4 linked regions of the Homo sapiens genome follow. The protein of the gene in region 1 purifies or fractionates together with the protein of each later gene. This does not show direct contact. Each region holds a gene or a part of one and is shown in the gene's direction. Other genes may lie near its edges.

Evidence for each region. Proteins that work in one complex are often made in the same cells at the same time.
Region 2: the proteins of CFAP263 (region 1) and GALM purify together in Homo sapiens (affinity purification with mass spectrometry; one large-scale study listed by BioGRID and IntAct). This does not show direct contact.
Region 3: the proteins of CFAP263 (region 1) and PPFIA3 purify together in Homo sapiens (affinity purification with mass spectrometry; one large-scale study listed by BioGRID and IntAct). This does not show direct contact.
Region 4: the proteins of CFAP263 (region 1) and SPTBN2 purify together in Homo sapiens (affinity purification with mass spectrometry; one large-scale study listed by BioGRID and IntAct). This does not show direct contact.

Annotation. Positions count from the first base shown.
Region 1 is NC_000016.10:58,248,783-58,252,735, forward strand, and holds the start of CFAP263 (cilia- and flagella-associated protein 263), read left to right. Parts: upstream 1-1,153; 5' UTR 1,154-1,232; coding exon 1,233-1,333; intron 1,334-3,944; coding exon 3,945-3,953. UniProt on the Homo sapiens protein: Component of centriolar satellites contributing to primary cilium formation. In complex with CFAP263, acts as a regulator of ciliary beating that connects radial spoke 3 (RS3) to the inner dynein arm (IDA) and the nexin-dynein regulatory complex (N-DRC).
Region 2 is NC_000002.12:38,728,614-38,732,113, forward strand, and holds part of GALM (galactose mutarotase), read left to right. Parts: intron 1-942; coding exon 943-1,084; intron 1,085-3,121; coding exon 3,122-3,296; intron 3,297-3,500. UniProt on the Homo sapiens protein: Mutarotase that catalyzes the interconversion of beta-D-galactose and alpha-D-galactose during galactose metabolism.
Region 3 is NC_000019.10:49,147,044-49,150,543, forward strand, and holds part of PPFIA3 (liprin-alpha-3), read left to right. Parts: intron 1-1,039; coding exon 1,040-1,215; intron 1,216-1,622; coding exon 1,623-1,720; intron 1,721-1,949; coding exon 1,950-2,125; intron 2,126-2,213; coding exon 2,214-2,282; intron 2,283-2,503; coding exon 2,504-2,675; exon of another isoform or gene 2,676-3,036; coding exon 3,037-3,095; 3' UTR 3,096-3,108; exon of another isoform or gene 3,109-3,192; 3' UTR 3,193-3,500. UniProt on the Homo sapiens protein: May regulate the disassembly of focal adhesions. May localize receptor-like tyrosine phosphatases type 2A at specific sites on the plasma membrane, possibly regulating their interaction with the extracellular environment and their association with substrates.
Region 4 is NC_000011.10:66,719,217-66,722,716, reverse strand, and holds part of SPTBN2 (spectrin beta chain, non-erythrocytic 2), read left to right. Parts: exon of another isoform or gene 1-1,276; 5' UTR 1,277-1,367; intron 1,368-1,454; 5' UTR 1,455-1,476; coding exon 1,477-1,633; intron 1,634-3,500. UniProt on the Homo sapiens protein: Probably plays an important role in neuronal membrane skeleton.

The DNA of each region.
Region 1 (3,953 bases):
AGAGAAGGTGGTAGGGCTCCAGCTCTCTGCTGTCATCTCCAGTGATTCTATTCTGGCCCCAACCTTGTGCACCCTGAGCAGCAAAACAAAAACCCTCCCTCAGATCCAGGGAGTGCCTGTCAATGCTAATGCATGCCCCTTGCAGGGGAAGGGGGCTGACCCGCTCCCCAAGCACTTCATCACAGCTTGCTTTCTAAGCACATCCAGAGTTCACCCTCCCTAGGAGAAGTCTCCCCGTCCTGCCCTCTGTCCTCTTTCATCCCCATGGGGAGCAGAGAGAGAGCTCCTGTGTTGCCTCCCTGATCCTTACCATGTCCCACATCAGCGTAGAAGTTAACAGCATGGACTTTGGGTTCCACCGGAGCTTGATTCCATTCTTGAGTGGAATGGAACCTAAGCTACTCCATTCCTTGGTTTTCTGATCTGTAAGATGACGGCAATAATACCAACTGTACCAGATTGTTTTGAGGATTTAAGGAGATGACTACGATGCACAGTGTGACGCATGATGTTGCTGTCATCACCCCAGGTTCCAGCGGCTTGTTTAGAGGCTGTTTCACTCATTTAATTGGAAGCTCCTTGAAGATCAGAATGGTCTTTTCCAGACATTCCCCCTAGGATACTAAGGACACAGTAGATATTCAGTAACTATTTAGGGATGTCTCTTGAATGTATACCCATTTTTATCAGCCACGTTTTTTTCCTTCCAGAAATGCAGGATGTTAATATCTGAGAGGAGCTGCTGTTAGCATGTAGGAAGCACCAGGTGGTGAACAGAGCAGGGGCCTCCCAGTGGGACAGGGGAAGAAGGACACTATGATAAATCGTGTTAATTTTCTAGGCCCCAGTTTCCTTATTGGGAGAATGGAGAGATTGATAGATACCATTACAAGGTTGTGGCGAAGGTTTTCATAAACTATGCTTAACACGCTGCCAAGGACACAGTAAGGGCTGAGAAACAGCAGCTGCTATTATTACTATCAATTTAAGAGTTATTGTTAAAGAAGTGAAACTGAACGCGCTTAGGTGTGCGCTCAAAGCCAGCAACCTGGCTGGGTCCGCACGGAGACAGGCGGGGCAGCGCGGGGAGGGGCCACCGGAAGCCCCACCCCTTTCCTCGCGTCCGGTCGCCCGGGCAACGCGCCACCGCGTCGCAGCCGGAGTGACGCGTGGCCGCCGGCACCCGGAGCTCCTGGGCACACGGCATTGGCAGGGGCCGCTTCGGCAGAGTGATGACTGATGATGAGTCCGAGAGCGTCCTCTCCGACTCCCATGAAGGGTCGGAGCTGGAGCTGCCTGTTATCCAGCTGTGCGGGCTGGTGGAGGAGCTCAGGTACCGCCGCCCGCGCCTGGGGGCCGCCCCTCTTCCTCCTAGGCCCTCCTCTCCGGGCGGCCTCGGACTTGGGGACCAGCATGGAGAAGATCCAAGCCCTCACTGAGCACTGGGGAGACTTTTCCTCTTTACTCCTTACTCCACCACCACTGAGCCAACAAGCTGTTGGTGGAGCTAGAACGGGGTGGTAGGGCGAGGGGATGGGGCCGGTGGTGAGAAGCCCAGAGGGTAATTGGGGAAGTGAGGGTTTCAGCCGGAGGAGTCTCTCTCATGCCAGACGGTGTGCTTAGCCGATCCACAATTCTACAGCAGCAATTTGGACCAGGTGACTTCTAAGCCCTTTTCTGATGCTAAGATTCTATGATAAGGCTGGGCGCGGTGGCTCACGCCTGTAATCTCAGCACTTTAGGAGGCCGAGGCGGACGGATCGCTTGAGGTCAGGAGTTCGAGACCAGCCTGGCCAACATGGTGAAACCCCGTATCTACTAAAGATACAAAAATTAGCCAGGCGTGGTGGCGCGTGCCTGTAATCCCATCTACTCTGGAGGCTGAGGCAGGAGAATCACTTGAACTTGGGAGGCGGAGGTTGCAGTGAGCCGAGATTGTGCCACTGCACCCCAGCCTGGGCAACAGAGAGGGACTAAGTCTCAAAAAAAAAAAAAAAAAAAATTATATGATAAAACTAACACGGCAGCAGAATAGAAAGCAAGCTATTGAGATGGTTTTAGTATGAGGCAATGTGTGCCTGAACCTGGATATAAGCATGGAGATGGACAGTAAAGAATGGCCCGATAGTCTGCGTTTATTTTGTTTTATTTTATTTTGCAGTCTGCTTTATATATTCTACTATAGCAAGTAAATTGGATATAAAGATTCCATGATGTAGTTAAGATTAGTTGTACAACTTACTGGTCTTGCACAGAATATCCTAGCTCTAGCAGCTGAATAGATGTTACTTCTATACATCTACAAATACTTTAGGTCAGAACTGAGGTATTATTACTAACAGCTCTCATTTTTGAGTGTTTCTATGTACCATGCATTTACATATATGATCTTATATGATGACACTGCAACCCTAGGAAGTGGGTAAGGAAACAAAGACGCAGAGGTGAAGTCACTTCCCTAAGTTCACACAGTCAGTGGTAGTGCTGGGATTCAAACTCAGGTGTGACTCCACAGACTACATACACCTGGAGCATGCTCTATGCTGAAAAAGCAAGCTACTTTGATAGATTGTGTTTTCCATTCAGCTTTTTCCACTAGTTTGTTTTGTTTTGTTTTGTTTTTGATACGGAATCTCACTCGCTCTGTCGCCCAGGCTGAAGTACAATGGCATGATCTCGGCTCACTGCAACCTCTGCTTCCCAGGTTCAAGTGATTCTCCTGCCTCAGACCCCTGAATAGCTGGGATTACAGGCACCTGCCACCACACCCAGCTAATTCTTGTACTTTTAGTAGAGATGGGGTTTCACAATGTTGATCAGGCTGGTCTCGAACTCCTGACCTCAGGTGATCCACCTGCCTCGGCTTCCCAAAGTGCTGGGATTACAGGTGTGAGCCACCACACCTGGCCCCACTAGTCTTAAAATTCAGCCAAACAGGAATTATTAAAAGTAATAGCAAAAACTGCAATTACTTTTGTACCAACCTAATAGATTAATAACACATGAAAACATCAAAGCTGTTCTCTCTCTCATATACATATACATACATATGTGTGTGTAACACACACACACATACACACGTATGAGAAGTTAAGAAGTTAAAAAGGTTATAACCTTGGCATATACAGGATAAACTAGGTATGTTATCTCTTCCTCTGTTCAAAGTTTTCCAGAGTTTATGATAAACTTCTGGTTGATACTTTTCATCTATTGGGTACTGAAAATAAAAGAACTGAAAAACAAACCAAAGGAAACATCTGAAGATTGTGGGTGTGTTTAACTTCAAGAATATAGTAATTCAGGTTGGGCACAGTGGCTATTATTGCCTATAATCTCAGCACTTTGGGAAACCAAGGTGGGAGGATCACTTTAGGCCAGGAGTTCATGGCCAGCCTTGACAACATAGCAAGATACCACCTCTACAAAAAAAATTATAAATTAGCCAGGCATGGCATTGTGCACCTGCAGTCCTAGCTACTTGGGAGGCTGAGGCAGGAGGATTGCTTGATCCCAGGAGTTCCAGGTTACAGTGAGTGCAACAGAGTAAGACCCTGTCTCTTAAACAAATAAAATATATATATGTATATATATAATATATAGTAATTCAGAAATAATCTCCCACATGGGTTCAATGATACTTGAAGATGAAACCTATGAGAATTTTCAATGTAATACTAGTGTTCTGAATTTTGTGGCTCATTAAACATATTAATAAAAATATCAAATATATAGCACTTACTATGTGTCAGGCACTGTGCCAGAGGCTTTGTCTTCCTTATTGGAACCCTAAAAGTTAAGTGCTATTCTTAATACCCATTTTATAGGTGAGGAAACTAAGGCACCAAGGGGCTAACGGGTTTTGCAGGTCTACTAGTTATTAAACACTAGTTATTTGAGGTTTAAACTCTTATTACTAGAACTTACTCAGGTACCCTGTCTTGCAGCTATGTAAA
Region 2 (3,500 bases), on another chromosome or scaffold:
GGCGGAGGTTGCACTGAGCTGAGATCGCGCCACTGCGCTCCAGCCTGGGTGACAGAGCAAGACTCCATCTCAAAAAACAAAACAAAACAAAACAAAACAAAAACTCAACCGTAACATTGTTTAAGCCTCTGAAACAGAGCCCTTTTCTTTTCCTCTTCAAGAAAAAATGGCTGGAGTGATTTGGCCTGCTACAGAGGAAACTGGTATTCTCTGTACTTGGTACAAGGTTCTAGCACCTGGCTGTTACTACTCCTGGGTGGGCCATAATTTTAAGAGGAAGTGGACCTCTGCCATCATCTTATCCTGGGGTTTTCCACCTGCGCTGCTCAGAACCTGTACTTGATTCAGCTAGAACAACTCTGGCTTTTATGTATATGTTACTATATATTTATGAGTATATATTTTCCATTGTCCCTTGGAATCCATGGAGGATTGGTTCCAGGACCCCCTACTGATACTTAAATCATTAGATACTCTAGTTCCTTCTATAAAATGGTGCAGTATTTGCATATAACCTGAGCCCATACTCCCATATACTCTATTTATTTGAGGGTTTTTTTTTTCTCTTCCCCACCCTCTCCATATTTGTTTTTTAAGACAGTCTCATTCTGTTACCTATGCTGGAGTGCAGTGGTGCAATCATGGTTCACTGTAGCCTCGACCTCCTGGGCTCAAGCAATCCTCCTGCCTCAGCCTCCTGAGTAGCTGAGACCACAGGGACACATCACTATGCCTGGCTAATTTTTTACATTTATTTATTTATTTATTTTATTATTTTGGTAGAGATGGGGTCTCTGCATGTTTCCCAGGATCTGGGCTCCCATCTCCTTAACAAATTAAAATGAAGGCGGAGAGAGTAGAACCAGTGAGCCTTTGTGGAGGCTCTATATAAAGATGAGACTTGGGCATTTATCACCTTTGTTTTCTGTCTCTTCCCATCAGGAGAAGTTGCCCCAGTGCAAGGCACTGCATTCGACCTGAGAAAGCCAGTGGAGCTTGGAAAACACCTGCAGGACTTCCATCTCAATGGTTTTGACCACAATTTCTGTCTGAAGGGATCTAAAGAAAAGCATTTTTGTGCAAGGTCAGGTACTTTTCACTTCCTGAGTCTGTAAGGAAGAAATGACACCAAGTCCTATTTTCCTTTGGAGCTTTTCCTCTGGCCATATCAATAGCATTTACTATGCTACAAGTGACCCAATACCACATCCCATATTTTCTCAAAGCTCCCATGGCACAGGTGAGCTCTGTAGAATTTATCCCAGTCCCCCACCTGCCATTACCCCTATTCCCCCTGCTTGGCACCCGCTCTCTCCCTCTCTGCCTGTTCTTTAAGGCCCATTTTCTGTTAGAAGCCTTAACTCTTCCTAGTGAAGTCACCTCGGCTGTCACTGAACTTCCAGAGCCTTTGTGCTTTCTCGATCTGTGACTTATGCCTGCCTACTCCATGGCCAGTTGGAGGCTAGGCATCTCCTGCAGCACTCACCGCCTCCAGCCTTGACCGATAGACACTTGTGTGCACGCTCTCGCCTTCTCACCAAATCCCAGTTCCTCATGCCATTTCATCTTTGTGAAGCCCTACCTCTACCCCAACACCTAATATCATCCTTGGCACTAGCAAATAATGAATAAATGTTTGCAGAATTAACAGTTTTGTGTGTGTGCGTGTGTGTGACGGAGTCTTGCTCTGTCGCCCAGACTGGAATGCAGTGGTGCGATCTAGGTTTACTGCAACCTCCGCCTCCCGGGTTCAAGTGATTCTCCTGCCTCAGCCTCCTGAGTAGCTGGGATAACAGGCACGTGCCACTATGCCCAGCTAATTTTTGTATTTTTAGTAGAGATGGGGTTTCACAATGTTGGTCAGGCTGGTCTTGAACTCCTGACCTTGTAATCCACCCACCTCGGCCTCCCAAAGTGCTGGGATTACAGGTGTAAGCCACTGCACCCGGTCAACAGTTTTTAAATAAAGCAGAAAAAATGACTCAAACCAAATAGTGACAGAAAGAAGATCAAAGACCTTCTCCGGGCTGGGCGTGGTGGCTCATGCCTGTAATCCCAGCACTTTAGGTGGCTGAGGTGGGCAGATCACTTGAGGTCAGGAGTTTGAGACCAGCCTCGCCAACATGGTGAAACGCCGTCTCTACTAAAAATATAAAAATTAGCCAGGCATGGTGGTGGGCACCTATAATCTCAGCTACTCAGGAGGCTGAGGCAGGAGAATCACTTGAACCCAGGGGGTGGAAGTTGTAGTGAGCCGAGATCACGCCACTGCACTCCAGGCTAGGCAACAGAGCAAAACTCCATCTCAAAAAAAAAAAAAGAATCTCAGGCCAGGTGCAGTGGCTCTCATGCCTGTAATCCCAGCACTTTTGGAGGCTGAGGTGGTCAGATCACCTGAGGTCAGTAGTTCAAGACCAGTTGGGCCAACATGATGAAACCCCGACAATACTAAAAGTACAAAAAATTAGCCGGATGTGGTGGCAGGTACCTGTAATCCCAGCTACTCTAGAGGCTGAGGCAGGAGAATTGCTTTAACCAAGGGGGCGGAGGTTGCAGTGAGCCAAGATCGCACCACTGCACTCCTCCCTGGGTGACAGAGCCAGACTCCATCTCAAAACAAACAAACAAACAAAAATTAGCTGGACATGGTAGTGCGCACCTGCAGTCCCAGCTACTGGGGAGCTGAAGTGGGAGAATTGCTTGAGCCCGGGAGGCTGAGGTTGCAGTGAGCCGAGGTCGCGCCACTGCACTCCAGCCTGGGCAATAGAGAAAGACTCTATTTCAAAAAAAAAAAAAAAAAAAAAAAGAATCTCAGCCTCTCCAGGACCTTCCTCTCTCCAACCTGGCTGCTGCCTTCCTCCCTACTCCCCAGCTGGCAGGAGTGAGTCTGTTTTGTGATGCCCCAAAGAAGCTACTGAGGATCCTGAAAGCCACCTGCTCATGCCTTGCCTTTGAGACTGGAAGAATTTTCCATCATGCTCTTCCTACCTTCATCTCCTCCTTATATCTTGTCCCTGCTCTGTGGCTGGGTCTGATTCCTGTCTCAAAGCCGCTTCCCAGCTTCTACTCCTCCCCACCTGCTTTTCTGCCCTGGACTCATGTTGTTTGTATTTCTTACCAGGGTGCATCATGCTGCAAGCGGGCGGGTACTAGAAGTATACACCACCCAGCCCGGGGTCCAGTTTTACACGGGCAACTTCCTGGATGGCACATTAAAGGGCAAGAATGGAGCTGTCTATCCCAAGCACTCCGGTTTCTGCCTGGAGACTCAGAACTGGCCTGATGCAGTCAATCAGGTAATGCCACAGGCTGGCTTTTCAGAGTAGAGTTGTGTCCAAGGTCACACTGTACGACAGAGTTCACTACACTCGAATCAGCTTGTATGATTCAAAAGTTCATGCTTTGTTTGTTTGGTTTGTTTTTTGAGACAGAGTCTCACTCTTGTCGCCTAGGCTGTAGTGCAGTGGCACGATCTCAGCTCACTGCAACCTCCGCCTCCT
Region 3 (3,500 bases), on another chromosome or scaffold:
CGTGGATTTTGTGCTGATGCTGAAAGGAGTGAGGGACTTGGGACTCATCTGGAATATTGTCCTGGGCCAGATATAACATTAGACAAGTATTTTCAGGACATTGCAAGAGTGATGGCCCTTTCTTAGTGGGAGAGCTGCCTTGAAAGAGTCCATTGTCCTGACTTGGGGGTTTAGTGACGTTGGACTGCAGTGAGACAGAGTTAAAGCAGTGCTTCCCCAAATTTAATGTGTAGTGGGGTGGCACACACCTGTAGTCTCAGCTACTTGGAAGACTGAGGCAGGAGGACCGCTTGAGCCCACGAAGCTGAGGTCAACCTGGGCAACATAGTAAGACCCTGTCTCTAAAAAATAAACAAATACAGCCAGGCGCGGTGGCTCATGCCTGTAATCCCAGCACGTTGGGAGGCTGAGGTGGGCGGATCCCTTGAGGTCAGGAGTTTGAGACCAGCCTGGCCAACATGGTGAAACGCCGTCTCTACTAAAAAATACAAAAATTAGCCGGGCGTGGTGGCTCGTACCTGTAATCCCAGCTACTCGAAGGCTGAGGCAAGAGAATTGCTTGAACCTGGGATGGGGAGGTTGCAGTGAGACGAGATCGTGCCACCGCGCTCCAGCCTGGGTGACATAGCAGACTCTTTCAGAAAGAGAGAGAGAGAGAGAGAGAGAGAAAGAGAGAAAGAAAGAAATTTAAAAATAAATATAATGTATATTTCGAATCACCTGAGGGTCTTGTGAAAATGCCGATACCGACTTCAGTAGGTCTGGAGTAAGGTCTGAGATTCTGCAATTCCAGCAAGTCCACAGGTGATGGTGACGCTCTAGGTCTCAGGACAACTGTTTGAGTAGCCAAGAGTATATGCTGTCATGAAGGGCTAGGAGACAACTCTGGATTGGTCCATTATCCTGAGCAGAGATTGGTCATTGTCCTACCATGGGGTGGGAAAAAACCTTGGATTGGGAGGTTGGACTGTACCCCTCTCATGCACAGTGGGAAGGGGCCAGAGGGCCTGACTCTTCCCTCACCTGCCCATGGCCCCAGATCCTGGCATATGGCGACATGAACCACGAGTGGGTGGGGAACGACTGGCTGCCCAGCCTGGGGCTGCCCCAATACCGCAGCTACTTCATGGAGTCGCTGGTGGACGCTCGAATGTTAGATCACCTTAACAAGAAGGAGCTCCGGGGCCAACTCAAGATGGTGGACAGCTTTCACAGGTGGGGGCTGCCTGGCCAGTGGGGACAGTCCAAAGGGAAGCCCCACCCCAGAGAGTCTTTGGCCAATAGGATTGGCCATGGGAGATTCCCAGGCTTATCTTGGCCCTTTTAGCCTGAGTTCTCAGGAAATCCTGACTCTGTGCTCCTTTCACCAATGAGATGGTCCACAGGAAAAGTTCAGATCCTGAAATGGCTTGGCTAGTTAACCCTGGACCCCTTCCAGGCTGGCCAGTAGGAAGTGCCTATTATTGAAAATGCCTCACCTCCTGAGGGGGTCAACAGTCAATAGAACTTATCAGCTCCCCACCCTTTCCAAGAAGAGCGCAGCCAGTGGGGAGGGACCCGTAGGAGCAGCAGTCTAGGGGACTGGAAAGCTCATCCGTGACTCCACTTCCCCTGCTGCTCAGGGTGAGTCTACATTATGGGATTATGTGCCTGAAACGGCTCAACTATGACCGGAAGGACCTGGAGCGGAGGCGGGAAGAAAGTCAGACCCAGATCCGAGGTGAGTAGAGCCTAAGGGTCCCTTTGGGAGCCAGGTGGAGGGCGTGGAGCTGGATGGGGAGGAGAGGGGGTAGGGGGAGACCGGAGAAGCAAATTGGCACCATAACCGTGGGGGTGGAGCCAGCGTGGGGGGCGTGGCCCGAAGAGACCAAATGGAGGTGGAGGTATGGGCTAAACTGAACTCTCCAGGCCACGGGAGGGGCACGGCTGAGGGTCCCTTCCGTCCCCAGACGTGATGGTGTGGTCCAATGAGCGGGTCATGGGTTGGGTGTCCGGGCTGGGCCTGAAGGAATTTGCCACGAACCTCACGGAGAGCGGGGTACACGGGGCACTGCTCGCCCTGGACGAGACCTTCGACTACTCCGACCTGGCCTTGCTCCTGCAGATCCCCACGCAGAATGCACAGGTGAGCTGCCGCTGGGCCCGGAGCATGCTGGGCGTCCCCACCTCGCAGACTGCACGCTCCAACCGCCCCCTCCACCTCCTCTTTCCAGGCCCGGCAGCTTCTGGAGAAGGAATTCAGCAACCTTATCTCCTTAGGCACAGACAGGCGGCTGGACGAGGTGGGCGCGGCAACAGCTCAGAGGGCTCTGCTCCCAGCGGCTCCTCGAGAGGCTGAGCTGAGGGGGCGGGGCCTGACTATTAATGGTCACGGTTGGAGGCGGGGCCAGGAGAGGGGCGGGGTTAAAGGAGAGGTGAGACCCGGAGAGGGGTGGAGTCAAAGGAAGGGGCGGAGTCAGACAAGGCAGGAGTCCCTCACCGGCTGTCCGGCTCCTATACCTAGGACAGCGCCAAGTCTTTCAGCCGCTCCCCATCCTGGCGGAAGATGTTCCGGGAGAAGGACCTCCGAGGCGTAACTCCCGACTCAGCTGAGATGTTGCCCCCCAACTTTCGTTCGGCTGCAGCGGGAGCCCTGGGCTCTCCGGGGCTCCCTCTCCGCAAGCTGCAGCCAGAAGGTGGGGGGCTCCCAAATGCGACAGCCCTTCCTCGCTTCCCTAGGGTGGGGCATGGACCACCTCAGTAGTCCGGGTTCTGGAATGGCCTAGTCCTTTCTCGCCCACCCCTGAGGAATGGACTGCTCCAACGTTCCGGACTCCCCCGTCAGGATGAAATGGATAAATCCCACTCCCCCTTCCCAGGGCGGGAGTGAACTCGCCCAATGCGAGTTTGAGTCCTTGGCTGCGGGGAAGGGAGGGAAACCCATGTGGAGCCCGGCGATCGTTGTGACATCGGGAAGGGAAGTCCAAAGGGAGGAATCCTGGAGAGGAACAGGGAGGAGGGTGCTCCAGGCTGAACCGCTGCTCGCTCTCCCTCCAGGCCAGACTTCTGGGAGTTCCCGGGCAGACGGCGTTTCGGTCCGGACCTATTCCTGCTAGTGCAGGCCTCCAGGTGAGGACCGTGCTGGGCGACCTTGGGGGTGCGGGGCGGCACGGTGGATCTTCACTGCTCCACGCGCTGCCCGGCGTCATGCAGGTGACCTCACTCGGACGGAAGAATCTTCCCGAGGCTGGGCTGTTCCCTCTCCTGCCCGGACTGTGGCCTCGCCGGGGAGAGCGGGCGGGGGAGCTCGCGCCGAGGACTGGACCATCTGTACAGACCAGCGGGAGTGCGCGCGCCCGCCTCGCACAGGGCCGGGGCCTGGACCAAACCACATGAACTGGACTGAGAGGGGGAAGAAGCGGGGAGGAAGAAATCCCGCCCCAAACGTCCGCTTTCCTTTTCTCTACTTTGTAATTTATTGATCAGTTTCTGTTGGGAGACGGGTGTCCTTTACCCGCGGG
Region 4 (3,500 bases), on another chromosome or scaffold:
TTACCATGTTGGCCAGGCTGGTCTCAAACTCCTGACCTCAGGTGAGCCACCCGCCTTGGCCTCCTAAAAGTGCTGGGATTACAGGTGTGAGCCAATGCCCCCAGCCAACTTAATGTCTTTTTTTTTTTTTTTTTTTTTTTTGAGACAGAGTCTCATTCTGCCGCCCAGGCTGGAGTGCAATGGCGAGATCTCGGCTCACTGCAAGCTCCGCCTCCTGGGTTCACGCCATTCTCCTGCCTCAGCCTCCCGAGTAGCTGGGACTACAGGCACCCACCACCACACCCAGCTAATTTTTTGTATTTTTTAGTAGAGACGGGGTTTCACCGTGTTAGCCAGGGATGGTCTCGATCTCCTGACCTTGTGATCCGCCCGCCTTGGCCTCCCAAAGTGCTGGGATTACAGGCGTGAGACACCGCGCCCAGCCAACTTAATATCTTTTGTGCAGCTTCCTCATCTATGAAATGGGGACAACAGTGGGCCCTCACCCCACAGGGAGTTATGGTGACGTGATGCATGTCAATGGCAGGGATATGTCACAGCCGACATTTATTGAGTACTTACTAACATTCTCTGTGGCAAACCAAAGGAAACAAAGCGGAGAGAAGCATACTGTGTCCTCCTTTGAACTCCTGGGCACTTGCTAAACAGTGTGTCAGTCTTCCTGGCGTATCATAACTTTTTCTTAACTCAAGAGCAGAATCTAGGTCTTTTTTTTTTTCTACTAGTCTCGCTCTAAGGTGCGCCCAGGTTCAAGCAATAATCCTGCTTCAGCCTCCTGAGTAGCTGGGATTACAGGCGCCTGCCACTACGCCCAGCTAATTTTTTGTATTTTTAGTAGAGATAGGGTTTCACCATGTTGGTCAGGCTGGTCTTGAACTTCTGACCTCAGGTGATCCACCCACCTCGGCCTCCCAAAGTGCTGTGATTACAGGCGTGAGCCACCGCGCCCAACAAATCTGGGTCTTTTTCTCTCAACTTGCCTACAGGGTATAGTAGGCCATCTTGGGTTGATCATGGGCTCAAAACAGTTTGTAGAAGGAAAGAATGCCACTTTCTAGTCATTATTGCCTGTGGGGCCCCATATGTGCTGCCTGCATTACCCTGGGCTGCACACTGCTGTCTGAAGCACTGAAGCCCATCACCCCTTTCTTCACCCCGCAAACCCGTCCCTCTCTGGCCCGAAGTCGTTGGAGCCTTTCCTGACCACCGCATTGCTCTGAGCTGCTGCTGCCTTCCTGCTTCACTTTCTGTGCTTCTGATGTATTCCCGTCCCCAGGCTTCCCAGGTGGCTTCCCCTCTTCCCCTGGGGGCTGATTTCCACTGAGCAGCCAACCGCAGCCTCTGGCCACAAGGAGAGCGGAGCACAGGTAGGGCAAGAAGACAGAAGGCCCCGGTGGTGAGTGGAGGGCTTGGTGGTCCCTGGACACCCCTCACTGGCCACATTCTCCTTGCAGGAGCAGGAAGCCGCCTACCACCATGAGCAGCACGCTGTCACCCACAGACTTTGACAGCTTGGAAATCCAGGGCCAGTACAGTGACATCAACAACCGCTGGGACCTTCCTGACTCGGACTGGGACAATGACAGCAGCTCGGCCCGCCTCTTTGAGAGGTCTCGCATTAAGGCTCTGGCAGGTGAGGTCAGAGGAGGGTCGAGGTGGGGGGATGCTGGAGGAGGCTTTGTCAGCTCGTCATGAAGAGCCCTTTAACTTTATGGGAAGACTGACTTTTCTTTCTAAGTGGGAGACCCAGAGCACTCTATCAATTCCCTGGTCCCCACATCCAGCCTCAAGAATAGGCTCCAGGCCATTCAGAACTTTCCCCAGCTCTTCCCCCCAAGCATAGAGACGCTTCACTGGCCCCTGGACTGGCTGAGCTGACTAAAACAGCTTCCCTCTCTGGCCTCAGCCCCCGGGTCATGTCCCTTCATCCTTCGGCACTCTCGCTCTTGCCACTCCTTTCTCCGCCTACCTCTCCCTTACCTGTCATGCCCTTGTTGTGTCTTCTTTGATTTCCACTGTCATTTCCCACACCTGTTCCCAGTCTATTATTCCCCTCTGCTCCCTCTCCACCTGTTCCTTCCACCTGCCACCTGTTACTCCCATTATCTCATCTGCCTGTTCCCTGAAGCAGGTTCCCTCCACCCGCTGCTGCTGGTTTCTGCAGCCGCCCATTCTCCCTGGTGTGCTCTCTGCCTGCCTTGGCTCCTACTCTTCCCTGCAGCCCAGGGCCTGGGCTCTCCGCTCTGAGCGGAAACTCGTCCAACGGCCTCCCTGTCTTCCGGGGGAGGAGTTGTCATGGCAACAAGAGTGCGGCTGCCACCTGACACCACCAGTGGCTGGCATGGGGCTGACTCACCCACACACCCCAAGGCCACCTACCCCGTCTGGCTTCCTCCTCCATCCCACTCTTGTCATTGCCATTGACCTGCTGGCTGCCCAGCCCAGCCCAACCCAACCCAGTCTGAGGGGTCCCAGCTACTCTCACCGAGAGGTGGTGCTCCGAGTGGGGGTGGGGGTTGGCCACTAGAAGAAGAGAGACTCCAAGGGGGAGGTTCCCAAACCTGGCCACATGTTTTACAGGATCACCCAGGGATGTTTTTTACAAATACAGGTTTCCAAGCCCCTCCCTAGACACAATAAGTTAGAATCTTGGTCCAGAACTCAGGATTTTTCAAAAGCTCCCCAAGTGATTCTTTTGAGCCAGCTCAGCACCAGTCTGAGGACCCCCTTGTGGCAGCCATAGCTTCCCAGGACCCCTTCTCATTTTCTCCTGGGCCTCTCTGTCCTTCTGGTTGGGTCTTCAGGCCGGCTGTGAAACACTCCTACCAGTGTGTCTATACATCAGAGAAGACAGAAGGTGTGGGTTATGGAGAATGTCATGTTTGGGGAAAATGTTCCTGGCACTCTGGTTTTGGATTCATGTAGCCTCTAGAACTGTCATGATGTCTATGTGTGTACAACATGTGCCACCCACCATGTTTGCACACATGACAAATGCCATCCAGGACTGTCACCATGCCTGTGTACATAGGACACATGCCTCCCAGGACTCTCACCATGCCTGTGTACATAGGACACATGCCACCCAGGACTGTCACCATGTCTGGCTGCACATAACTTGGGCCACCCAGCACTGTCACCATGTCTGTGCACACATCTGTGTGACCTCGTGCTCTCATTGGGTGTTTATCTCCACCACTGAACTGGGCTCTCCTGAAGAGGCAGCTCTGCATGGGATTTGCCTAGCACTGTGTCTCCAGCCAGTAGGTGTCAAATAAACACTGAATGAATGAAGATGAGGAAGGGCAAGTGTAGGCTGCACATGACAAACGCTGAAGCCCAGAGGAAGGGCGCCTGGTATATGTGCCCAGCAGCGGGGCGTCTGGGGGCAGGGATGGCCTGGTGGAGGATGGCCCTGGTGGGCCAGAGGGCAGGGAAGGGGCTGGCACTGGAGGTGGTGATAAGCAAGTGGAAAGGATGGTAACAGCCCTCGTTTCACA